7 linked regions of the Homo sapiens genome follow. The protein of the gene in region 1 purifies or fractionates together with the protein of each later gene. This does not show direct contact. Each region holds a gene or a part of one and is shown in the gene's direction. Other genes may lie near its edges.

Evidence for each region.
Region 2: the proteins of GPR55 (region 1) and EARS2 purify together in Homo sapiens (affinity purification with mass spectrometry; one large-scale study listed by BioGRID and IntAct). This does not show direct contact.
Region 3: the proteins of GPR55 (region 1) and TMEM201 purify together in Homo sapiens (affinity purification with mass spectrometry; one large-scale study listed by BioGRID and IntAct). This does not show direct contact.
Region 4: the proteins of GPR55 (region 1) and ATP13A3 purify together in Homo sapiens (affinity purification with mass spectrometry; one large-scale study listed by BioGRID and IntAct). This does not show direct contact.
Region 5: the proteins of GPR55 (region 1) and TM9SF4 purify together in Homo sapiens (affinity purification with mass spectrometry; one large-scale study listed by BioGRID and IntAct). This does not show direct contact.
Region 6: the proteins of GPR55 (region 1) and COQ8B purify together in Homo sapiens (affinity purification with mass spectrometry; one large-scale study listed by BioGRID and IntAct). This does not show direct contact.
Region 7: the proteins of GPR55 (region 1) and ABHD17B purify together in Homo sapiens (affinity purification with mass spectrometry; one large-scale study listed by BioGRID and IntAct). This does not show direct contact.

The regions. Positions count from the first base shown.
Region 1 is NC_000002.12:230,918,743-230,922,242, reverse strand, and holds part of GPR55 (G-protein coupled receptor 55), read left to right. Parts: intron 1-3,500. UniProt on the Homo sapiens protein: G-protein coupled receptor that binds to several ligands including 2-arachidonoyl lysophosphatidylinositol or lysophosphatidylglucoside with high affinity, leading to rapid and transient activation of numerous intracellular signaling pathways.
Region 2 is NC_000016.10:23,550,851-23,554,350, reverse strand, and holds part of EARS2 (nondiscriminating glutamyl-tRNA synthetase EARS2, mitochondrial), read left to right. Parts: intron 1-2,046; coding exon 2,047-2,202; intron 2,203-3,500. UniProt on the Homo sapiens protein: Non-discriminating glutamyl-tRNA synthetase that catalyzes aminoacylation of both mitochondrial tRNA(Glu) and tRNA(Gln) and participates in RNA aminoacylation for mitochondrial protein translation.
Region 3 is NC_000001.11:9,605,911-9,609,410, forward strand, and holds part of TMEM201 (transmembrane protein 201), read left to right. Parts: intron 1-1,646; coding exon 1,647-1,879; intron 1,880-3,500. UniProt on the Homo sapiens protein: Critical regulator of angiogenesis and endothelial cell (EC) migration. Promotes the migration of endothelial cells, which is essential for angiogenesis.
Region 4 is NC_000003.12:194,428,003-194,431,502, reverse strand, and holds part of ATP13A3 (polyamine-transporting ATPase 13A3), read left to right. Parts: intron 1-276; coding exon 277-399; intron 400-480; coding exon 481-560; intron 561-1,187; coding exon 1,188-1,230; intron 1,231-1,321; coding exon 1,322-1,431; intron 1,432-1,728; coding exon 1,729-1,825; intron 1,826-2,585; coding exon 2,586-2,658; intron 2,659-3,500. UniProt on the Homo sapiens protein: ATP-driven pump involved in endocytosis-dependent polyamine transport. Uses ATP as an energy source to transfer polyamine precursor putrescine from the endosomal compartment to the cytosol.
Region 5 is NC_000020.11:32,161,714-32,164,734, forward strand, and holds part of TM9SF4 (transmembrane 9 superfamily member 4 isoform 1 precursor), read left to right. Parts: intron 1-3,021. UniProt on the Homo sapiens protein: Associates with proteins harboring glycine-rich transmembrane domains and ensures their efficient localization to the cell surface.
Region 6 is NC_000019.10:40,696,387-40,699,886, reverse strand, and holds part of COQ8B (atypical kinase COQ8B, mitochondrial), read left to right. Parts: intron 1-3,500.
Region 7 is NC_000009.12:71,866,194-71,869,693, reverse strand, and holds part of ABHD17B (alpha/beta hydrolase domain-containing protein 17B), read left to right. Parts: intron 1-2,687; coding exon 2,688-2,907; 3' UTR 2,908-3,500. UniProt on the Homo sapiens protein: Hydrolyzes fatty acids from S-acylated cysteine residues in proteins. Has depalmitoylating activity towards DLG4/PSD95. Has depalmitoylating activity towards GAP43. Has depalmitoylating activity towards MAP6. Has depalmitoylating activity towards NRAS.

The DNA.
Region 1 (3,500 bases):
ACACGTCACATACTTTCTCTCCTTTTCACCAAACATTGGAAAACAGCCTTATATTGAAAGGAGATTCTACTTCAGGGTTAAAAATCAACAAACAAAAACACCCTTCAGTAAGACACGGCTGTGTGCATGAATTCCCTCTACAGCACCCTGGATAAGCACATAGCCCTGCCTTTGCTTGCATACCTCTGGTGACAGAGAGCCCTCCACATGACGAGGCTGCTTTGCTTTGTCTACTCTCAGACACTCTGGCTGCGAGATAGGTTTGCTTTCTGCAGCACCTGGAACCCATTCCTTTTCTGACCCTGTGAAGTCTTATGGTGGAACACGTCACGATCACTGGAGGATGGATGACCTTGTGCCTTTCCCTCTAGGGATTAGGAGCATCTCTAGGCCTTTCTGCATCTTCTCCCATGCTGTGGTTCCCTAGCCCCTCCGAGTTCAGCCCCTGCAGACAGACAGCCTCGGGTCCTAGGGTGATCAGAGCTGTGCATTGGCCATGGTCACTCCCATTCCACTTCCAGGATCTTTGAGTGTAGCCTTGGCTCACCTCGTTTCTCCCTTTCATGTTTAAAAGAACACTTAGGAATTCCCACTTTCCTTAAAGTGGTGACTGCGTTTGTGTTTTGTGTATAAATATTGTTTCTTTACAATATTTCAGCAATGTACGTCTGATTTTGTCTCTGACTCACACGTGAAGAGCCTGTGTAAAAGAATGCATAGAAATGCCTGTATTTTTAATATGGCACTGCAGCTAAGTGGTCAGGACCAACAAACAGCTATTTTCTTTGTGGTCCGAGAATGAGGAGTGTAAAATTGCCATTGCCTGTGCTCGGGAATGGGGTAAATTTTGTGAAAGACACTTCTATTCTTCTAAAGAGAGCATAGACCCTTGATTTATGATGTACTTCTCCCTGATCTGCTAGTCTACCTTATTAGTTGGGTTGTTCAGAGCTCTAATTTCTGTCTATTTTGATCATGGGTATTCCACAGGAGGGGCACTAAGGGCTCCAGCTACATTATATTTCCATTTTTTAAAATTTCTTTTGCATTTCCTGCATGGTCCCATTATGTACTTGTTTGCTGTGCTAATTGGAACAGAAATTGAGTGTTTTAAGTTTTCATTATTTATTGTAACTTTCACTCTTGTGGAGTCTCCATGTTACTTTCTCAATTCTTTTTACTAAAAAAAAAATTACTTTGTCCTATTCCCTTCCTTTCTAGCACAAAATGTGCCTGATAAACCAAAGATTATGCTATCATTTTACTCTGTGTCTTTTCATTTTCTTAGTGTTTTTCCTTGACAAAAGATGATTGAATTTTGTTTTTTTTAAATTGATGGTTGGTTTTAATAGATTAATATAGGGAGTATTAACAATTGTTTATAAATTTGCATAAACCTCTGTGAGGTTGCCCCTCTGTTTTCTATATTGTGATATTATAGTTTTTTCATTTTCAGTTTCTACTGTGAATCTTCTCTTCCTTTTGTCCCGTTAAGATAGACAAGGTGATTTAACCTAAATATTCAATTTGGAAAATATTTAAGTTCTTAACTTCTTGATGCTATTGATAGCTTGCCAAGCTTTGGGGGAATTATATTTTAAATCTCTTTTCTTACCTTCACCTACTCTTCACTATGAAGCTGGCATTTTGTCTCTTTTATGTCGTCTTTTACTGCTTATGTAATACACATTTTTATAATGTGATGGCTGACCTGTGAACAGAGGAAACTTGTTTATTTTTCAATTTTTTTTTAAAAAAATCATGAATCAGGTTCTTGTTGCTGTTCTCCCATCATTTGGGTGGGATTGCTGTCTCACTTGACACTCCCACATCTCTCTCTCACTTCATGCTTCGTTCCCAGCCCCATCTTGAAATGCTCATCTCTGACCCTGAAAGGTCATGCCTCATCAGCTGAGCTTTGGTGAATTCAATGCATAACTTTTAATTTTGTGTAAACCTTGCGCCCTGCCATGCCTCAAACACAAACCCAGACCACAAGTTGTTTCTCTGATACAGAAGGAAAAAATTGAAAGCTATCCTTACTGGTCTCCTTTTTCCCCACCAAGCATTATATATATATATTTTTTTAATCTCAGGTTTTCATATTATCATTAACTAATTAGAAAAGCACACACACACACACACACACAAAAGACAGAGATAAAGATAAAAGATTTTAAAAATCACCCACCTTCCAACTGCTAGAATGCAACCACTGGTTGGGATGTAGAAATCTTTTTTTAGGTTTTTTTTTTTTCCCCTCTATGCGTGGGTTTTTGTAATTTTAATCACAGTTGAAATCATTCTGAATGTCTAATTCTATAGTTTGTGGGGTTTTTACTCAACATAGTCAGCATAAACATAACAGTCAGACAGAAAAATTTTCCATTGAGTAAATTTACCGTAGTGAACTTAACCTCTTGTTGGCATTTACATGTGTGTATGTATTTTTTACTATTAGAAAAAAAGTAATGTGGTAATACAGTGAGGCAAAGAAGAATAAGAAGAAAAAATGCCAAGGTGGACATATTTTTGTACACAATTTTTCTTCTTTCATATAATTTACTTAAGGTGAATTCTCAGAATCACTGGATTAAAGACATACAATTTTCATGGCTTGTAATAGAAATTATCAAATCCCAAAAGTGGTGTGCTAATTTGTACACTTACTAGCATATTGGTGACTGGTTTCACAGAACCCTTGCCAAATTCTTTGTTAAATTTGATAAGCAAAAATGTTATCTCTTTGTAAATCCTCTTCTGGGAACTGCCTATGTCATTGGCTTGTTCTTCTATTGTTGTTCTTGATGTTATTCATTTTAATATTCTCTTCTCAGAGAAAGAACGTCATTTGTCTAACATTGATTGTGTTTTGTTTCTTCGAGTACATTATTTGATGTTAAGACTTTTTAGCAAAAAGAATTTTTTTTGTGCAGTCAAACCTGTCCTGTTTATTTTCTGTTTCTTTGATTTTCAGTTATGCTAAGTTGACAAAGAGCTTTTCCCTTTAGTGATTTTATAAGTTGTTTATTAAATTTTCATCTAGTTTTTCTATGATTTGATTGTTTTGAAATGTAATTCCTTGATGAATTTGGAATTTCTTTTGAGATACCGTGTAAGATGAGACTCTAAGTTGGTTTTTACTCCCAAATTGTTAACTGACAGTCTTAACATAATTCTTAACATAATTTCTTAACTAAGCCTTCCCTTTGTATTATTGATTTTTGTGGAATGCCTCATTTATTCTTGCTTCTGTTAAATGTGTTAGTGCATAGTCTGAGATTTTTGGGTTAGTAAATGTCTGATTTCAACAAGAATGTCCCTACTATTTTACCATTAAATACAAAGTTGTCATTGGTGTGAGCAATTTACTCTTTGTAAGAAGTACTTTCCTGTTCCATTAGTTAAATAACTCAAAAAACTATTTATACAATTGGATGACTTTTTATTTTTGCTCTAATGATGTGATACAAAACATTAATTGATTTCCTAACACTGAA
Region 2 (3,500 bases), on another chromosome or scaffold:
GTTTAAAGCCAGCAATTAGGGTGAAAATCTTGGCAAGGCATGGTGGCTCATGCCAGTAATCCCAGCACTTTGGGAGGCTGAAGTGTAAGGATTGCTTGAGCCCAGGAGTTTGAGACCAGCCTGGGCAACATAGTGAGACCTTGCCTCTGCAAAAAAAAAACCAAAAAACAAATATTAGCCGGGCATGGTGGTGTACACTTGTAGTTCCAGCTACTTGGGAGGCTGACGTGGGAGGATTGATTGAGCCTGGGTGGTTGAGGCTGCAGTGAGCCGTGACTGTACCACTGGACTTCAGCCTGGGCAAGAGTGAGACCCCATCTCAAATTTCAAAAATGAATTTTGTTTCTTTAAAAAAGTAAAAATCTCAAGTAGATGAAATTTAAAATGTACGACGTGGACAGTCATGCACACTGCATAGACTGCATATGCAAAATGTGATTTTTTTTTTTTTTTTGGAGATGGAGTCTCGCCCTGTCGCCCAGGCTGGAGTGCAATGGTGCGATCTCGGCTCACTGCAACCTCTGTCTCCTGGGTTCAAGCAGTTCTCCTGCCTCAACCTCCCAAGTAGCTGGGATTACAGGCGCCCACCACCATGCCCAGCTAATTTTTTTTGTGGTATTTTTAGTAGAGACGGGGTTTCAACATGTTGGCCAGGCTGGCCTCAAACTCCTGACTTTGTGATCCACCCGCCTCGGCCTCCCAAAGTGCTGGGATTAAAGGTGTGAGCCACCATGCCCCACCGATTTTTTTTTTCTTTGTAGAGACAGGATCTCACAATGTTGCCCAGGCTGGTCTCAAATTTAGAGACCCAGGTGATCCTCGTGCCTCTGCCTCCAAAAGTGCTGGGATTAGAGGTGTGAGCTACTGCACCTGGCCCACAATATGATTGTACAGTATTTTAAATTTCTAGTTTGTTTGTAATTAATTTTTTTCCCAGCGCACATCATTGAATTTCTGTAAGTTAAATGTACATGATATGGCCTCAATGAATAACTCTCTGCTTCTCTTTCAGGCGAAACTTGGCCTTGAGACAAATATCAAAATAGAGTGGTGGATGCAGTTGGGGAAAATTGGAGCCTTTTAATAAAATGACATGCTCCAAATCCTGGGTGGTTTCCATTTTCAGGATGAGGGATTAAATGTGTCTGGAGACAGGGCACAGGGGTAACTAGTTCTTAGTCTTTGAAAAAAAATTTTTTAATTTTTAATTTTTTTTGTTTGAGACAGAGTCTCACTCTACTGCTGCCCAGGCTGGAGTGCAGAGGCGTGATCATGGCTCGCTGCAGCCTCAGCGTCCCCAGGCTCAGGTGATCCTCCCACCTCAGTAACTGAAACCACAGGCATGTACCACCATGCCCAGCTAAATTTTTATATTTTTTGCTAAGACAAGGTCTCACCATGTTGCCCAGGCAGATCTCAAACTCAGGCCAAGCACAATGGCTCACGCTTGTAATCCCAGCACTTTGGGAAGCCAAGGCAGATGGATCACTTGAGGTCAGGAGTTCGAGATCAGCCTGACCACCATGGCAAAATCCTATCTTTACTAAAAATACAAAAATTGGCCAGGTGTGATGGCTCTTGCCTGTGATCCCAGCACTTGGGAGGCCGAGGCTGGGGGGATCACTTGAGGCCAGGAGTTCAAGACCAGCCTTGCCAACATGGCGAATGCCTGTCTCTACCAAAAATACAAACATGTAGCTGGACGTGGTGGCACACACCTGTAATCCCAGCTACTCGGGAGGCTGGGCATGAGAATTGCTTAAACACAAGAGGCAGAGGTTGCAGTGAGCCAAGACTGTGCCACTGCACTCCAGCTTGGGTGACAGAGTGAGACTCTTGTCTTAAAAAACCTACAGGAACCTCCTGGGCTCAAGTGATCCCCCCGGCCTTGGCCTCCCAAAGTGGTAGGATTACAGGCGTGAGCCAATGTGTCCTGCTGGTCTTTTAAATTTATTGCAACATTCTGTCACAGTAGTGCTTACTTGCCCCTTGCTGAGGCCTATTAGCTTATCTTCCCTGTCTTATCTGAGCTGTTCTCTTCTCCAGGCTTCTTGCACCTGGGTGGCCTCCGCACTGCCTTGTACAACTACATCTTTGCTAAGAAGTACCAGGGGAGCTTCATCCTGAGGCTAGAGGACACAGATCAGACTCGCGTTGTGCCTGGGGCAGCGGAGAATATTGAGGACATGCTGGAGTGGGCAGGTAAGCCTGGCAGAGAAAGGATCTTTCTGCAGGGAAGGAACAGGAAGCAGGAAAAGGAGCCTGTGGGTCTTCTCATGGAGTTCTGAGTGGAAAATGGGGAGTTCCTGGAGAAGTGGCTACATTTGTACTGCCCTGCCCGGGGTGGCAGATGACACCTGAAAAAATGCCGAAGCTCTCTGAAACACAGCTCCAAGACTGGTTTCTTTATTTTTATTTATTTATTGTTTTTGAGACAGAGTCTTGCTCTGTTGCCCAGGCTGGAGTGCAGTGGTGCGATCTCGGCTCACTGCAAGCTCCGCCTTCCGGGTTCACGCCATTCTTCTGCCTCAGCCTCCAAGTAGCTGGAACTACAGGCGCCCGCCACCACGCCCGGCTAAGTTTTTTTGTATTTTTAGTAGAGACGGGGTTTCACTGTGTTAGCAAGGATGATCTTGACCTCCTGACCTCGTGATCCACCTGCCTCGACCTCCCAAAGTGCTGGGATTATAGGCATGAGCCACCGCGCCCAACTTGGTTTCTTTATTTTTTAATTTTTTAGAGTCAGGGTCTCATTTTGTTACCCAGGCTAGAGTTCCATGGCACAATCATAACTTACTGTAGCCTCGACCTGGGCTCAAGTGATCCTCCACCTTAGCCTCCCAAGTAGTTGGGACTACAGGCACGCACCACCACGCCTGGCTAATTTTTAATTTTTTTGTAGAGATGAGATCTCACTGTGTTGCCCAAGCTATTCTCAAACTCCTGGGCTCAAGCAATCCTCCTGCTACAGCCTCCCAAAGAGCTGGGATTACAGGTGTGAGCCACTGCCAAGGCTGTTTTGAGATTCCTGTTTTCACCTCAGAATCTCAAGTTCATTCCCTACAGGGGCCAGGCAGGAAACACAGGGCCAAGTGGGAACTGGAGGAGCTGGGCCAGTGCTGAGCTGTGAAAACCACACCTCATCCAGAGTTGGGAGTGCCTCTGAGCTCCAGCTCCTTGTGCCCATGCGGGAATGCTGGCCCAGCTTGTCCAATCCTCTGAGTTGCAAGAGGAGCCAGAAATCCAGTTTTTCTGGATGAATACTTAACCATTATTAAATCTGGGCTCAGATTTTTTTTAACCATGTTGTATAAGCCACACAAAACACGTACAGCTTCTGAAGTTGATCTTGTGGGAAGTTTTATCCTGAGGACAGCTAAGGTCAGGGAGAACAAAGAGGAGTGTGTTTCCTTTTCATGGGTCGACAGTTGTCTACCTGTATGGACGGGTGTGACTAGGAAAGGGGAGATTCCCAAGGAAAAATACCAAGACTCTGCTAG
Region 3 (3,500 bases), on another chromosome or scaffold:
AACGGTACTCTCAGGTCACTGGGGGACCTGGTCACCCTTGGCTGACTCTTGGCTATGTCTGTGCTGCCGGGCAGGGTGGGCACAGGAAGCCTAGCGCAGAGCCCTGCCCCACAAACTCCCTCCCATGGAGGGTCATGCCCCAAGGTCCCAGCAACACCTTCACTGCCCCTGCCTAAAGGTGCCCTCAGGGTCATTCCCTGAAGTCGCTGCGCTGTCCCGCCAAATGGAATCAGAATTCTAACATGACGACACAAAACCTCATCTTCTGTGTAGAGGTGGAGCCTTCCCTGGAGTCTTGGGGGCAAGCAGCGGGCGCTGGGCCTGGGAATCACAGGTCAGCAGGCGGAACAAGGATGTGTCCAGTCCGGCTGACCGGGGCCTTCCCCAGGGTCCCCAGCTCAGCTCCTGCCTTGATGCCCACATTCGCCAAACATGGCCTCGCCTTTGGTTCTGAAGTCCAGGTGGTCTCCTGGCACCTTGGAAGGCATTAGAAAGGTTACATGATTCTCCGGGAAGTCAAGAGCTGGCCCCACACTTTCCTTATAAAACTTTTTTAGAGGGAAAGTAGCAGGGAGGTTGGTGGCGCGCGGCTTGGCTAGCGATCCCCGAGCATGCAGTCATGCTGGGCGCAGGTCCCTTAAGCAGCCCCCGGCTCCTGCAGGGCGTGGGCCAGCCTGCCCGCTCACCAGCACGTTGTCCACTGGGCTCATTTGTCCCTTGGCACCGAGGTAAGGCTGGACCCCCGGAGCTCCGTCCAGACGGTGGACTAATGTATTAACTGCCTCTGTCCCTCTCTTCCCTCTGTAATTGGGTGCCTTAATCAGAAGCATGGTTGACGTTCTGGCGTGGGGCCATCAGGTCCTGTTGTGTGATTTGTACCATCTCGAGTTAAAGAGACACTGTCACCTTCCGTCTTTCGGGCAGCCTTGCGGTCGTGGATGGGTCTCTTCTAAGTTCGGTTTTGGCGTTGTCCTGTGAGAGCCTCTTCCAGGGGGTTCCAAGGCCTGGCTGCCCCCCAGTTCTGCTCTACCAGGAACTTCAGAGGAGTTTCCAGAGTGCAAGGCCAGAGAGCAGGAGGCAGCCTTCTAAGGGCAGAGCTGTGGGAGGACTTCCAGGAATCACACCTGGGAACAGAGGGTGCCCAGAGCCGTGCTGGGGCCTGACTTCCTATGATCCAGGCCCATCTGGGAGATGAGCCAGGATGTCCCTGAGCCCGGCCGCTCTGTGGGAAGGCTCGGCACAGAACAAGAAGTGGCAAGGAGTCCAAGTCCATTAACCTTCATTGAGTGCCTGGCACGGGGCTGGGCATTTTTGCTTCAAGGCGAAAGGGTTGGCATGAGGTTGGCAAAGGCGACAGTGTCACTTTAATACCGAGACTCGTAGTGGAGATAGTTTGCTGTGAGCCGAGGGGGTAGGAGGGGGCATGTGGGGAGGGCCGGGTCTTGCTGGCACCTCCCAGCCACCCGCTCCTAATGGCGTGAATGTGGTCGGATTGCTTTTCTGCTTTAACTAACGCACGCCTCCTCTGGGACCCCAGCTGAGGCCCCCACCTTGCACTGTGGGAGAGGGGTGGGACCCACTGCAAGGCTGCCTCCAGGACCTCCCGCTGACCCTCTTCTTGTCCCGTGCCTGACGGGCCCTTGCAGGTTCTTCCCAGGAGACTCTGCCGGCCTTTTCCCCACCAGCCCCAGCTTGGCCATCCCTCACCCGAGTGTCGGAGGCTCTCCAGCGTCTCTGTTCATCCCCAGCCCGCCCAGCTTCCTGCCCCTCGCCAACCAGCAGCTCTTCCGGTCTCCTCGACGGACCTCACCCTCCTCATTGCCTGGCCGCCTCAGCCGGGCCCTCTCTCTGGGAACCATACCCTCTCTGACTCGAGCAGGTAAGGGGTGCCCAGGCATTGGCAGACAGTCAGGGCTAGGGGCAGCTGGGACAGAACTGTGGATGGGTACATAGTGTAGGGAGGGCCGGGAGTGGTTAGTGTTCCTGCTGCAGAGACAGGCAGCACAGAGCTTTGAGCCTCAGTTCCCCCCAAAGAAATGGGGCTAGCTAGGAATAGGTGGCTCATGCCTTTAATCCCAGCACTTTAGGAGGCCAAGGTGGGAGGATGGCTTGAGGCTAGGAGTTCAAGACCAGCCTGGGCAACATAGGGAGACGCTGTCTCTACAAAAAAAGTTGTTTTAATTAACTGGGCATGGTGGCGTACACCTATAGTCCCAGCTATTTAGGCTGAGGTGGGAGGATCGGTTGAACCCAGGAGTTGGAAGCTGCAGTGAGCTATGATCACGCCACTGCATTCCACCATGGGCAACAGAGCAAGACCCTGTCTCAACAAAAATAAAAATAAAGTGCCCAGAATTGCCATATCATCTGGGAGCCCCAGCACGGCCCCTTAGTCCCAGCTCTGGTGACATGACCTTGGGTAAATGTGTGCACCGTGCTGTGCCCTAATCTTTTCCTCTAAAATTGCAACATGCCCCTCAGCAAAGGGGGCCACTCTAGTTATTCTAGGGGAGGAGATGCTGATAACAGCCAAGGCCCCTCTCCTCTCGTGCAGTTACAGGGCAGGCCATTTTGTACACACGCCAAGGTTTATATTAGGATGCTTTTGCTTTTCCCCTAAGCAGAGATACCCCCCTATTTTCAGGGCACCCCAGCCTGGTGGCACTTGAATGGAACTTGGGGTGGGAGGTGCCAGGAGCAGCCCTGCCCTGGGCCTGAGCACTCCGAGTAAACTCTGTGCGCACTGACCAAGGTGGCAGAGCTCAGGGACTTCTGTTTCAAGCCCCTTGGGAGGGGAGCGTGGCAATCCCAGGGCCAGTTCAGGCCTCCAAGGCAGGGGCTCCTGCCCACAGAGAAGAACAGGCAATCTCCCTGTTAAGGCTCAAGGCAGGGACACAGTAGCGACCTGTCTGAGGTAGCAGCAGAGGTCTTGGGGCGCAAGCTTGTCTTGGAGTGTCCGGTGACAGATGGGACCCCAGTCTCCATTACCAGAGTGGGTCGGGGGGAGGAGCCCGGTCTCCATCGCCAGAGGGTGGGTCGGGGGCAGGAGTTCCTGCAGGGCTTTGGCTCATGTATTCAGAGACGCGCTGGACCGGGCTCAGGTGCTGTGGCCAGAATCCAGCTTGCTGTCTCCCTGTCTGTCCTCAGTCCGCTTCTCTGCCACACACCTCATCCCTGTGTCCTGCAGCCCATGCCCAGCAGGAAGACGGCCTCTCCCAGCATCCATAGAATGGATTCTAGAAGGACCCTGGTTGGCATGCTGGGTCCTTGTGACCACCCTTATCCAGCCTATCCCCTGGCCTGGTGAGGGGAGGGTTATCTGCATGCTGCAACAGACCCTTCAGAGCCCACAGGTGGCAACAGGACATGAGGCAGTCCCTGGGTCCCACATTCAGCTCTCAGCCAGCCACTTGGAATTGGGGCCCCTGCCCTTGGGGTGCGTGCGCCTGATTTAGGAAAAGGCAGCGTGGTTGGTGATCCCTGGGATCGAGAGAACAGGC
Region 4 (3,500 bases), on another chromosome or scaffold:
GTTTTAAAGTACAAGAATTCCAGATGTTTATCGTATTCTTCAGGTAACTAGTGGTAAATGATGCAGGTGGTCCATCATACTCAGTTCATGCATCATTTCAAATTGAAGCTGATATTTAATTGAGTTTCTTTTTACTTTGAATAAATGTCCGGCTTTCATCATGTTGTGGAACATATCAAATGAAAGAATTCAGTTTTAGAACAAATATGTTTAAAATAGAATTGTTTTACTTGGTTTGGTTGCCTAAATATTGTTCCCAATGTCTCATATACACAGGCTATTCCGGTTAAATTGGTCCATGATAGCTTAGAGGATCTTCAAATGACTCGTTATCATTTTGCAATGAATGGAAAATCATTCTCAGTGATACTGGAGCATTTTCAAGACCTTGTTCCTAAGGTAAGTAATTTGGGTGTATGTGTGTGCTCACATGAATGCATCGCAACAGTATTTTAAAAAAATTTGTATTATTGTTTCCAGTTGATGTTGCATGGCACCGTGTTTGCCCGTATGGCACCTGATCAGAAGACACAGTTGATAGAAGCATTGCAAAATGTTGAGTAAGTATTGGTGTCTTTTTTGGTTTTGGTTTTTGATGAATGATGGTTTCATTTCAGCATCAGAAAAATAATTTTTATATGTTTCTTATACTAATATTTCATATTTATATATATAATTGTGATCTATAAGATAGTTCAGAACTTTAAGTGCCGCTTTAAAAGAGTCTCATGTGCTTTTTATTTAGCTAAAGTACAATATCCACAGTTTTTTCTCTATGACTTCATTCTTTCAGGTGCTCTATCTTGATAGAAGTGGCTAATCATTTTAGTAAACAGTTATGTTTCAGGTTATTAAGGGATAAATTTTTACTGATAACGTTAAAAGTAGCCATACTAAAGACTGTAGGCACAAGCGCTTTGCTCTAAAGATGAGGAAATTGAGACACCAAAATGATTTGCCGATAATGTGACAGAAATAGGACAATAACCTAGCTCATTTCACTTGTGGTCTGGTGCTGTTTGCAAAGCAGCACACCTGTGTTCATTATAGTGAAAAGATTCATAGTTCCACTGGGGGAATCTTGGTGTGTTAGCTCTTTATAATACTGTAATAGAAAAGTCTTAATAAGTTAAATGTTTTGTAGTTTAAGAAATTAATTAAAATCTTAACATTGTTTTGTTTCTTAGTTATTTTGTTGGGATGTGTGGTGATGGCGCAAATGATTGTGGTGTAAGTATAGTTTTTGTGATTTAGTTTTATAGTTCTTACTCTAGCCTAAATCATATTCACAAAACTTAACCAGTTTTCTTAAAATTATTAGGCTTTGAAGAGGGCACACGGAGGCATTTCCTTATCGGAGCTCGAAGCTTCAGTGGCATCTCCCTTTACCTCTAAGACTCCTAGTATTTCCTGTGTGCCAAACCTTATCAGGTAGTACAAATTAAAATTTTTCTCATCCCTTTTTCTCTGTCTCTGATAATACAGAAGAGAAAATTATCATAAAAAGTAACATGAATTTGTTTAATATTAGCAGATTAGCACATTTGAGCTGTAACTTATTAGTAACAGATTGATTGCTACTCCTCATTTGGTTTAGTTCTTTTGGTGGATAAGCACTTTGTTGTAGCCGTTGAATGTTGATGTTCATCTGTCAAGATAAAATTGTGGTTTGGAAAAGGAGTTTAAAATGCTTCTATTCATATGCCGACATTTGATTTCTTTTCACAGGGAAGGCCGTGCTGCTTTAATAACTTCCTTCTGTGTGTTTAAATTCATGGCATTGTACAGCATTATCCAGTACTTCAGTGTTACTCTGCTGTATTCTGTGAGTATTAACATTGTGTGCAGAGATAACACTTAATGTGCACCGTAAATTAAGATGTTGAGCGTATGTGTTTGATTTTGAATGCATCCATTAGTAATTGTTTCTGTGAGTAGTACCTATAAATTTACCTTCAATTTACTGTAGTTTGAATAGCAAATTGAAAAAGTTAAAATGAGAAAAGATGTTTCAACAGTGGTTTGTTGAATTTGGAGAATGGTTTGCATTTGGAGAAAAAGTATAAACAGCGATGGCCACAGGTACCCTATCAGATTTTATAATCAAAGTGTTCTGACATCCTAAAGACTCATGGTGACACTATCCCATTTGACCGTTTGTAGAAAGTATCAGAAGGGATGGTATTAGATGAAGATACTAATTTACAACGTTGAATATTTTGAGTAAATGTTTGTGTTTTCTTTTTGCCAAAAAAACCATGTTGGCCAGGGTGGTCTCGATCTCTTGACCTAGTGATCTGCCCGCCTCGGCCTCCCAAAGTGCTGGGATTACAGGTGTGAGTCACCGCGCCCAGCCTATTGAACGAATTTTAAGGAGATGCCTTTTATACTAATATACTAAATCAAATATTTATAAATATATGTTATATTTAGTTTCAGAGACACTTATATTTCAATTTTTAAGCAGGTCCGAGTGTCATTTTTAAGTTGTCATTATAGGGAAAATCCAAACTATTAATAAAACCTGGGGACGCTATAAAAATAATTCCCAAAAACTAATAATGTTTTTAAAATTACTTCTGTAGATCTTAAGTAACCTAGGAGACTTCCAGTTTCTCTTCATTGATCTGGCAATCATTTTGGTAGTGGTATTTACAAGTGAGTATTTTGCTTTGTTATTGATTTTTAAAGTGTATGAAATTCTGATGTGACTTATTAAATTTTTGTAAATTTACATCAACAATTGTAACATAGCTCACACCTCTCCAGATTCCTTGTAAATATGTTATTTTATTACCAGTTGTTTATATCTTGCGCCAATTTTTTAATTGTTCTGTCTCTATTTTTTTCCCTGAAATATTTGAAAATAAGTTTTGAGTCATTATGCTCTTTTGCCTCTGACAATTTTAGTATATATTTTCTAAAAGCAAAACCATTCTTTTATGTAACTAAATACAGTTGTAAAGATCAGGAAATTTAACATTGATATAATATCTGGTGCAAAACCTATATTCAGGTTTTGTCATTTGTGTCAACAATGTCCTTTATGCCTATTTTCCCGTAGTCCCCTAGATTAGAACAAAAAATATCTCCAGACATTGCCAGATGCTCCTTTGGGGTGCAAAATCCTCCAGTTGAGAACCACTTATCTTTAGTAGATGATAAAACTAGTGAAAGTTTGATGAGGAGCAGGATTTTCACAGTCTCAAAGTATCTTTTCACAAGGTGCTAGTTACAAAGGGAAAAATAGAAATTTCTTTTTTTCTTTTTTTTTTTTTTTTTGAGACAGAGTCTGTCTCTGTCACCCAGGCTGGAGTGCAGTGGCACGATCTCAGCTCACTGCAACCTCCGCCTCCCGAGTTCAAGCGATTCTCCTGCCTCAGCCTCCTGAGTAGCTGGGATTACAGGTGTGCACCATCATGCCCTGCTAATTTTTATATTTTTAGTAGAATCGGGGTTTCACCATGTTGGCCAGGCCAGTCTCTAACTCCTGACCTCAA
Region 5 (3,021 bases), on another chromosome or scaffold:
GGAAAAGATAAGAGTAACATGAAAGAAGAAAAGTAGAAAGGAGTTAATAAAGATAAAAGCACAAAATGCTGAAATAGTCTAAATAGTAGAACCCAAATTTAGGGCTGCAGGTATCCTGTCTCTGCAGGTGTTCTCTTCTTCACGCAAGTACTGTTCAATCCTGCAGAGTAAGGAGAGGATGGGAAAGTTTTTCACAGGCACCTCGGAGCCCTCCTAACTCTGTGACCCCACATAGGTAAAGTGTGGCCCAATAATAAGAGGGAGCCAGGCTTACCTGACTAGGGCAACTCACAGAGCTCATTGTCCCGAGAGAGAGACGTGGGCAAGAATACAGATGTCCCCACGACAGTTTTACTAGATTCATTCATGATACACAAACCAGATGAGCCATTGAGAGGAATTTGGAGGAGCCCTGTTGGGCCCCTCACCTCCAAAACTAATACTCAAGACTTACTCTGACCTGCTGTACTTTGGGTCTCCAGAGCCCAGAAGCAAGCAGTCCTCTGTGGCAGTCAGGCGTATTTGCAAAATAGAGTTGTAGGTCAGTTGATCGAAGCTGGGAATGCCGTTTCCCAAAAACAGTCAAGTTGGAAAAGACTGGAAGGATCATTTAGTGTAGTGCTGTACCCCTACCTCCAGTCTGGTGACTGTGCCCCTCTTCTCTAACAGTCTCAACAGATGATTCTCTAGCTCAGGGGTCAGCAAACTGCAGCCCGCGTGGGCCAGCAGGCCTGTTTCTATAAATTTTTATTGGAACACAGCCATGGTCATTCATTAACATATCTGTCCATGGCTGCTTTCACACTACAATGGCAGAGTTGAGTAGTTGCGACAGGGACCATATGGCCTGCAGAAACTAAAATATTTACAATCTGGCCCTCTAAGTAAAAGATTGCAGACCCCTGCTCTACTACATCCAGCAACAGAGAAGACACTCCCTCCTAACATTCCCATTCTTTCTGGACAGCTCCTGTCATTATCAAGGTCTTGATTCACACTGCAGTCTCCCTTGCTGTGACTTCCATCTTTAGACCTTAGTCTTAATTCTGGGATCATCTAGAACAAATCTAATCTCCCTCCTCTATAGCCCATATTAATCATAACTCTCATAAGTGGCAAGTGACTAAAACTCTATCAAAGTAGCTTAAGCAAAAAAAAAGGGAAAAAAAGTAGCTTAAGCAAAAAGAATGTATTTGCTTATATAACTGGAAAGACTAAGAAATTGGAGTTCTAGCCTCAACCATGCTTAGATCCAGAGTCTCAAAAATATCAGGGCTCAATCCCAGCACTTCGGGAGGCCGAGGAGGGTGGATCACAGGGTCAAGAGATCGAGTCCATCCTGGCCAACATGGTGAAACCCTGTCTCTACTGAGATACAAAAAATTAGCCGGGCGTGGTGGTGCACGTCTGTAGTCCCAGCTACTCAGGAGGCTGAGGCAAGGGAATCGCTTGAACCCTGGAGGCAGAGGTTGCAGTGAGCCAAGATCGTGCCACTGCACTCTAGCCTGGGTGACAGAGCAAGACTCCATCTCAAAAAAAAAAAAAAAAAAAAAAAATATATATATATATATATATATATATATGTATGTATGTATGTATGTACACATACATACCAGGGCTCTGTGCCCACGCCTTAGCCCTGTGTATCTTTTTTTGGCCTCAGTCTGCAGGCAAGATCTTTTCACAAAGTAGAAAGATGGCCAGTGGCAGCCCTAGAGTCTACTCTTTCCAGCTTTGCAGCCCTAGAGCTAAAAGACTGTCTTTCGTCTACCATGATACGTCAGCCAGTGAAGACACGCTGCTCTGCTCGGGTGACATGCCCAGTGCTCACTGTTTTCCAGGTCCAATAGCATCACATATTCAGACAGACTGGCTTAGGTCTTGTGCTAGGAATTTTTTTTTTTTTTTTTTTTTTTGAGATGGAGACTCGCTCTGTTGCCCAGGCTGGAGTGCAGTGGTGCGATCTTGGCTCGCTGCAGCCTCTGCCTCCCGGGTTCCAGCGATTCTCCTGCCTCTGCCTCCTGAGTAGCTGGGGTTACAGGTGCACACCACCACGCCCGGCTAATTTTGTGTTTTTAGCAGAGACAGGGTTTCTCCATGTTGGCCAGGCTGGTCTTGAACTCCTGACCTCATGTGATCCGTCTGCCTCAGCCTCCCAAAGTGCTGGGATTACAGGCGTGAGCCACCGCACCTGGCCTATTTTGTGCTAGGATTGATGGCCCCAACAGGACCAGGTGTTTTGAGTGTTCCTCAAAACATCTGGAATATGGAAGACAAGGAACACGGTTAAACAAAACTAGAGATCACATCACAGCCTCTTGTCCTTCCTCCCTTCTGCTCCAGTCTTCTTGCTCTGCTCAAAAAATCTCTTCCTCCAGCCCCAATGCCTTATGTATAAAATGAGGAACTTTCTGGCTCTGCCTCTTTGCCTCGTCCCTTGCCTCCTTTTACCACGGTTCTGCTCCTTGTCCCTCCCCCACCCCTCCCCCGACCACCAGCCACAAGAATGCATATAACAAGAGATGGAGGCTGGGTGCATATGGTTCACACCTATAATCCTAGCGTTTTCAGAGGTGGGAGGATAACTTAAGTCCAAGTGTCTGAGACCAGCCTGGGCAATAGAGCAAGACACCATTGCTAGAAAAAATATTAGCTGGGTGTGGTGGCACACACCTATAGTCTGAGCTACTTGGGAGGCTGAGGCAGGAGGATCCCTTGAGCCCAGGAGGGTGAGGCTGTAGTGAGCTGTGATCATGCCACTGTGCTCTAGTCTGGGTAATAGAGGGAGACCCTGTCCCTTTAAAGAAAAGGGGTTAGGGGAGAGATGCGGGGCTGAGCCTGAAAACATGGCCTTCACCCCTTAGGCTTAGGAGAGGGCTTCAAATGGTGACCTATTTTGTTTTCTTTGTTTCTTTACTGTTTTCTTCTGGGCTACTGGCATTCTGTGACCATGTGTCTGCCTGTGAGTCCTGGGACAGGCCCTACTCAGGCCCTGGGCATATCTTGATACCAAGGTTCCAC
Region 6 (3,500 bases), on another chromosome or scaffold:
TTGCAACGCTCTGCTTCCCAAGGAAAGGGTAAGAGAGGTTGAGGGTAGCCCCCTGCCTAACTGCTTTGGCCAGAAGTGGAAAAAGTAATGCCCAGGCTAAATACACTAAGCTCATCCTGGGGCAATGGACATAGCACTTCCGTTGCCATTCCATCAGTGAGAGCTAGTGACATAGCCTGCCTAGGTGCAAGGCATGCTGGAAAATGGAGTCCCTGGCTAGGCAGTGGTTCCTGGTGGCAATGTGACAGCACAGAGGGGAAGTACAGCTTTTGGAAGGCAGTTAGCCATCACTACCACACTCGTCATCCATACAGAACACACCATCACCTGCCCTTGCCTCTTGACAGCAATAAAAAGACATCCCTGACCCTTGCCTTCTCAGAGTGCCCAGTCCAGTGGGGGGACCTGGCACCACACAGCGATGACCTAGAGTGGTTCGTACCAACCACAATGAGGAGCACAGGCCAGATGGGTCAGGACCGGGATGGGGGAGGCACAGGCAGAGGGGTGGGGGCTGGAGTTGGGGGAGGCACAGGAAGTTATGGGATCCCAGGGAAAGTGCCTGACTCACTGTGGGGTGAGCAGGGATTAAGGGAGGCTTCTTAAAGCAAGTGCCATTAAAGCTGAGGCCACTGAGAGGCTGAGGTGGGAGGATGGCTTGAGCCCAGGAGGTCGAGGCTGCAGCGAACCAAGATCATGCCACTGCACTCCAACCTGGGTGACAGGGCGAGACTCTGTCTCACCAAAGAAAAAAAAAAAAAGCTGAGACCAGAGGCTGAGCATGGTGGCTCATGCCTGTAATTCCAGCACTTTGGGATGCTGAGGCAGGAGGATCCCTTGAGGCCAGGAATTTAAAACCAGCCTGGGCTCTATTTAAAAAAAAAAAAAAGGCTGAGATGGGACAGGGGAAAAGGAGACAACCATCCAGAGAGCAGAGTGTTCCCAGCAGAGGGCAGGGGGTGTACAAAGACCTGTAGTGAAGGTTTGGACCTGCAGACTTGAGTGTTGGTGGATACATCATTACCTTTATCAGGGGTTGCCAACTGTTTTCCAAAGTGGTCTATCCCCATTTTGTCCCCAGAGGGGTCTTTCTAAAGCACAAATCTGGTCAAGATATCCCTCCTACAGCTTCACAGCCCCCTCAGAATCAAGTCTGAACCCTTTGCTGAGCATCCTGTGGCCCCACGGAGTCTCCAGCCCTAGTCCCTTGCCTCTTCTTTCTCCACAATGTGCATACACCCTGTGTCCCCTCCTAGGTTCATACCCCAGGGATATGTTTACCCAACTCCAAGTGATAGGAGTCCTGACATCAATTTATTGGTTTCCAACAGGACTTTTTTTTTTTTTTGAGACAGAGTTTTGCTCTTGTTGCCCAGGCTGGAGTGCAATGGCACGATCTCAGCTCACTGAAGCCTCTGCCTCTGGGGTTCGAGAAATTCTCCCACCTCAGCCTCCCAAGTAGCTGGGATTACAGGTGCCCGCCACCACACCTGGCTAATTTTTTGTATCTTTAGTAGAGATGAGGTTTCACCATTTTGGCCAGGCTAGTCTTGAACTCCTGACCTCATGATCCACCAGCACTTTTTTTTTTTTTATGGAATAGATGATGTCAGTATGTCACAGATGGGAGGGATCCATATTATTTTGGGACACTTTTCTTTTTTTTCCCCGAGATGAAGTCTCGCTCTTGTCACCCAGGCTGGAGTGCAATGGTGTGATCTCGGCTCACTGCACCCTCCGCCTCCCAGGTTCAAGCAATTCTCCTGCCTCAGCCTCCCAAGTAGCTGGGATTACAGGTGCCTGCCACCACGCCCAGCTAATTTTTGTATTTTTAGTAGAGATGGGGTTTCACCATGTTGGCCAGGCTGGTCTCGAACTCCTGACCTCAGGTGATCCGCCTGCCTTGGCCTCCCGAAGTGCTGGGATTACAGCCATGAGCCATTGCGCCTGGCCTTGGGACACTTTTGTTTGACGTTTTTGTGTGCATTTGCATGAACGCCCAGTAGAAACTCTCTCTCTCTCTCTCTCTCTCTCTATATATATATATATATATATATATATATAATTTTATTTATTTGTTTGTTTAGAGATAGAGTTTTGCTCTTGTTGAGAATGGAGGCTGGAGTGCAGTGGCACAATCTCGACTCACTGCAACCTCCACCTCCTGGGTTCAAGTGATTCTCCTGCCTCAGCCTCCCAACTAGCTGGGACTACAGGCGTGCGCCACCACACCCAGCTAATTTTGTATTTTTAGTATAGGTGGGGTTTCACCATGTTGGCCAGTCTGATCTTGAACTCCTGACCTCAGGTGATCCGCCCCCCTCAGCCTCCCAAAATGCTGGGATTACAGGTGTGAGCCATCACGCCCAGCCACCAGTAGAAACAATTTCTTACTGTGGGTTGTGGTCAGTTCAAACTCTACTGCCCTAGAAACATTCTTACAGGTGTTCATTGAGCACAAAAATTAGAAACAGGCCAGGTGAGATGACTCACTAATGTAATCTCTGCACTTTGGGAGGCTGAGGTGGGAGGATCACTGGAGCCCAGTAGTTCGAGACCAGTCTGGGCAACGTAGTGAAACCCTATCTCTACAAAAAATGTTTCAAACTTAGCCAGGTGTGGTGGGGTGCACCTGTGGTCCCAGCTACCCAGGAGGCTGAGGCGGGAGGATCACTTGAGCGTGGGAGTTTGAGGCTGTAGTAAGCCATGGTCGTGCCACTGCACTCCAGCCTGGGCAACAGATCAAGACCCTGTCTCAAAAAAAAAAAAAAATGTCAGAACAGAGTTTATAACTAATAAACATATTTAAAAAGAAGGAAAAAAAATCAGAAACAACCACAGTATTCCTCAGCCAGATAAATGCACTGTGATAGATTCACGCAACGAAGTCCTTACACAGCAGTGTGAAATGAGTGACTGAGCTGGAGCGACACATGGCAACAGGGATAAATCGCAAAACCATGCTGGGCAAAAAGCACAAGTTGCAGGAGAACGACAGTAAATACCACTTCTGTGAAGTTTGAAAATATGCACACCATTACTCTAGATTGTTTACAGCTGTACACATACATAGAAAATATAGAAATGCATAAATGAGAATTTCAGGAAATAATTTAATAATGATTGTAGGAAAGAGGTGACCCTGGGGACCTGGGGGAGGTGTGATCAGGGCGGGATACACAGGAGGCTCCACGTGGATGGGGAGTATTTTTTTTTTTTTTTGAGACGGAGTCTCACTCTGTTGCCCAGGCTGGAGTACAATAGCACAATCTCGGCTCACTGCAACCTCCACCTCCCAGGTTCAAGCCATTCTCCTGCCTCAGCCTCCCAAGTAGCTGGGATTACAGGCACGCACCACCGCACCTGGCTAATTTTTGTATTTTTAGTAGAGACGGGATTTCACCATGATGGCCAGGCTGGTCTCAAACTCCTGACCTCATGATCCACCCACCTTGGCCTCCCAAAGTGCTAGGGTTAGAGGTGTGAGCCACCACGTGTGG
Region 7 (3,500 bases), on another chromosome or scaffold:
GACACTTGATGTTAGAGAAGAACAGGTAGAAGCTAAAATGAGTAAATATCTGATTAATGATACCTAACTTACAAAAGAAGTGAATTGAAAAAAAGTTGAATCTTAAATTAACTAGATTAGTAAGTATTGCTGCCACAAAACCTGCAAACATACTTAGATGTATTTGAAAGGAAAGTAGCTACTTTTCCTTCATGCTTCTCAAGACAGGAGGTAGTTCCCACCTACTCTTCATAGTTGGAAAAAATTAATGGCCTATTTTTCTCAAGGAGAAGACAAGAAATAAGTTGGCAAATTTTAGTTTTCTCTCCTTTCTCCAATTGGCAGCAATACAAAGGATTTTTTTTGTGAATGGCCGATGGGCCAAAGGCAAAGTCATCACATGGTTCAAGAATTATTTTAAAAACACAGAATTTTCATCATTAGCCAGTAATGGATCACTTTAGTAGGGAAAGTATGTGAACACATGATCTTATCACAAGGGCAAGCTGTGGGCATGTTTGGGTTTTTATTTTGTTTTGGGTTTGTTTTTGTTTCAGGTAATGTGGGTATAGGCATTATACTGCCTCTGTCTAGCTGAATGGTAAAAATGATAGGGATGTATCTGAGTATCCCCATATCAGTGTTGTTGTCAACTTATGTCTCCATCTAGCTCCCTCTTTCATTTCTGGTGCACCAACAGAGAGCAACACTAAAAATAAACTGTTTGGCCAGGCACAGTGGTTCACGCCTGTAGTCCCAGCACTTTTGGAGGCCGTGGCGGGTGGATCACTTGAGGCCAAGAGTTCGAGACCAGCCTGGCCAACATGGTGAAACCCCGTCTCCACCAAAATTACAAAAATTAGCCAGGCATGGTGATGCGTGCCTGTAATCCCAGCTACTCGAGAGGCTGAGGCATGAGAATCCCTTGAACCTGGGAGACAGAGATGGCAGTGAGCCAAGATGGTGCCACTGCACTCCAGCCTGGGCGACAGAGCGAGACCCTGTCTCAAAAAATAAAAATAAACTGTTTGAAAAAGATAATATACTTCTTTTTATTTTTTATTCAAGTTTTAATTCCTCTACCGCTGAACATCTTTCTGACAACAGATAGTAAACCCAAGTATTTATTCTTACCAAATGCAGCCTTAGATTATTTCATTGATGGTTTTTTCATTGTCAACATTCCATTTTCATTTTATGTTTATTATAATACCTTTCTCTAAAGATTCTTAAAAAGAATTGTCTGTGTAGTTTCTGTGTCCTCCAAGTTGCCTTTTAAAAAAGTGTTTGTTTTGATTCCTCTGTTATTTGAAGTGTTCTCCTCTCATGTCTGATAATTCTTGGTTGCCTGCTTATATGTAAGTAAAGGAGCTGATCAACTCTTTACTCTTACATATAAGCAGACAATCAAGATTTAGCAGATCAACTAAAGGGCTGATCTGATAATAATCTCCAAAGAAGGCTCTTTCTTTCTTTCTTTCTTTCTTTTTTTTTCTGAGACAGAGTCTCGCTGCGACACCCAGGCTGGAGTACAATGGTGTGATCTTGGCTCACTGCAACCTCTGCCTCCAGGGTTCAAGTGATTCTCCTGCCTCAGCCTCGCGAGTAGCTGGGATTACAGGCATGCGCCATCATGCCTGGCTAATTTTTTTTTTTTTTTTTGTATTTTTAGTAGAGACGGGGTTTCACCATGTTGATCAGGCTGGTCTCGAACTCCTGACCTCAGGTGATCCACCCACTACGGCCTCCCAAAGTGCCGAGATTACAGGCATGAGCCACCGCACCTGGCCCAAAGAAGACTTTCTAAAAGTCCCTCCTGGAGGACAGTGGCCTGACTACCAGCATTCTGGGAGCCACATAGGGAAAATGGGTTCATAGTAGCCAGTATGTAAATGTATATGTTTCCATTGTCTCTATGATACCTCTGTTCTAAACTCTGGCAGTCTTCTAGTTCACAGACATTCCAGTCTTGGGGGCAGGCAGTTTCTGGGTATATGAACAGGCAAAAGGAACTGGGAAGGGGAGGCTAACTTTCTTACACAGACTTTGCAAAAATCCTGTATATTTCAATCACCCCCTTCATCACCATGGTAATTCCTTAGCTTTCTGGGGTATTCTGTTGTATAAATTGGTTTCGTTCATCACTTTACCATCTATCTGCCTAAAATTGTGTTTTCTTCTTTTAATAAATTGTTTCACACATTAATCTTCTTTCCAGCTCCAACATTTTATTATATTTTAGTACATTCTCCTTGTTTTTGTATCTTTATCCTCAAACAAGAACAAAAACATAAAACATTTTGCTGTCATTTTAGTAGGAGACTAGGAGAAAGAATATAGTGAGTGCAGAAAGTGAAATTAGCGCATACTTGAAATGGTTCTTAAATTTTCTCTTCTTCTGGACACCTAAGTTTCTCTGTGCCAAAAGTCAACATTGTAGAAAGGTACAGTAGAGTGACAAGAGCATTGAGTGATTCCAGCAAAACCATCAAAACAAGTGCATGAAAATAACTTCCTCAGATAATCTTAAGGTAGGGAGTATGTAAAAGGCAATTTTTGAATCTTACTGGAAATTCAGGAGACATTCTTACCTTCTGAACTGATTCATACAATTCTCATATTTGAATTATCTGTCTGATATAGCACAAGAATATGTTCCTTTACATAGTTAATTTATTGCATTTTTCCCCCTTCCTTTTTCCCTGCAGCATTGACAAAATCTCTAAGATAACCTCTCCAGTATTAATAATTCATGGGACTGAAGATGAAGTCATTGACTTTTCACATGGCCTCGCATTGTTTGAACGTTGCCAAAGACCTGTGGAGCCTCTCTGGGTTGAAGGAGCAGGTCACAATGATGTGGAACTTTATGGACAGTATCTTGAAAGGTTGAAACAGTTTGTGTCACAGGAACTGGTAAATTTGTAAAATATTCTGTAAATTTGCTACTGGGTTTTCCTTTCTTGCTGAACTGCACTCTTTGGTAAATAACATAAAACCTGAAGGTTTTGTTTGCAAATCATGTCAGTTGCCTTCATAAATGTACAGGTAATGATTTGTTAACAGACTTAATGAAGGTTTTAATTACCAGAACTAAAAACTGGAAATAACAGTACCGTGCAGTCAGGCTGTGTAATTTATATTTTTTCTGTGAATTTTTTTTTAACATCAAGATGAGTACTGTATGAGATTTTAATTCTATAAAATCAAATGCTGTAAAAGTATTGCCAAATGCTTTTGCATACTAGAAACAAATTTATAAATATTTTTAAAACATCTCAATATATTAAATCTTATCCTGGAATACAACTGTAATATTTTGAAAAAAGCTATGTATCTAAAGCAATTTAAGTACTCATAATGGAATGAACTGTAAAAGAGATTTAAAACCATGCAAGTTCACTAGAATTAACCTAAACCCTGTTGTACAGGGATAGAGGTTTAAAGTTATTTTATTGTAAAATACATTGAATTTTCTGTATACTCTGATTACATACATTTATCCTTTAAAAAAGATGTAA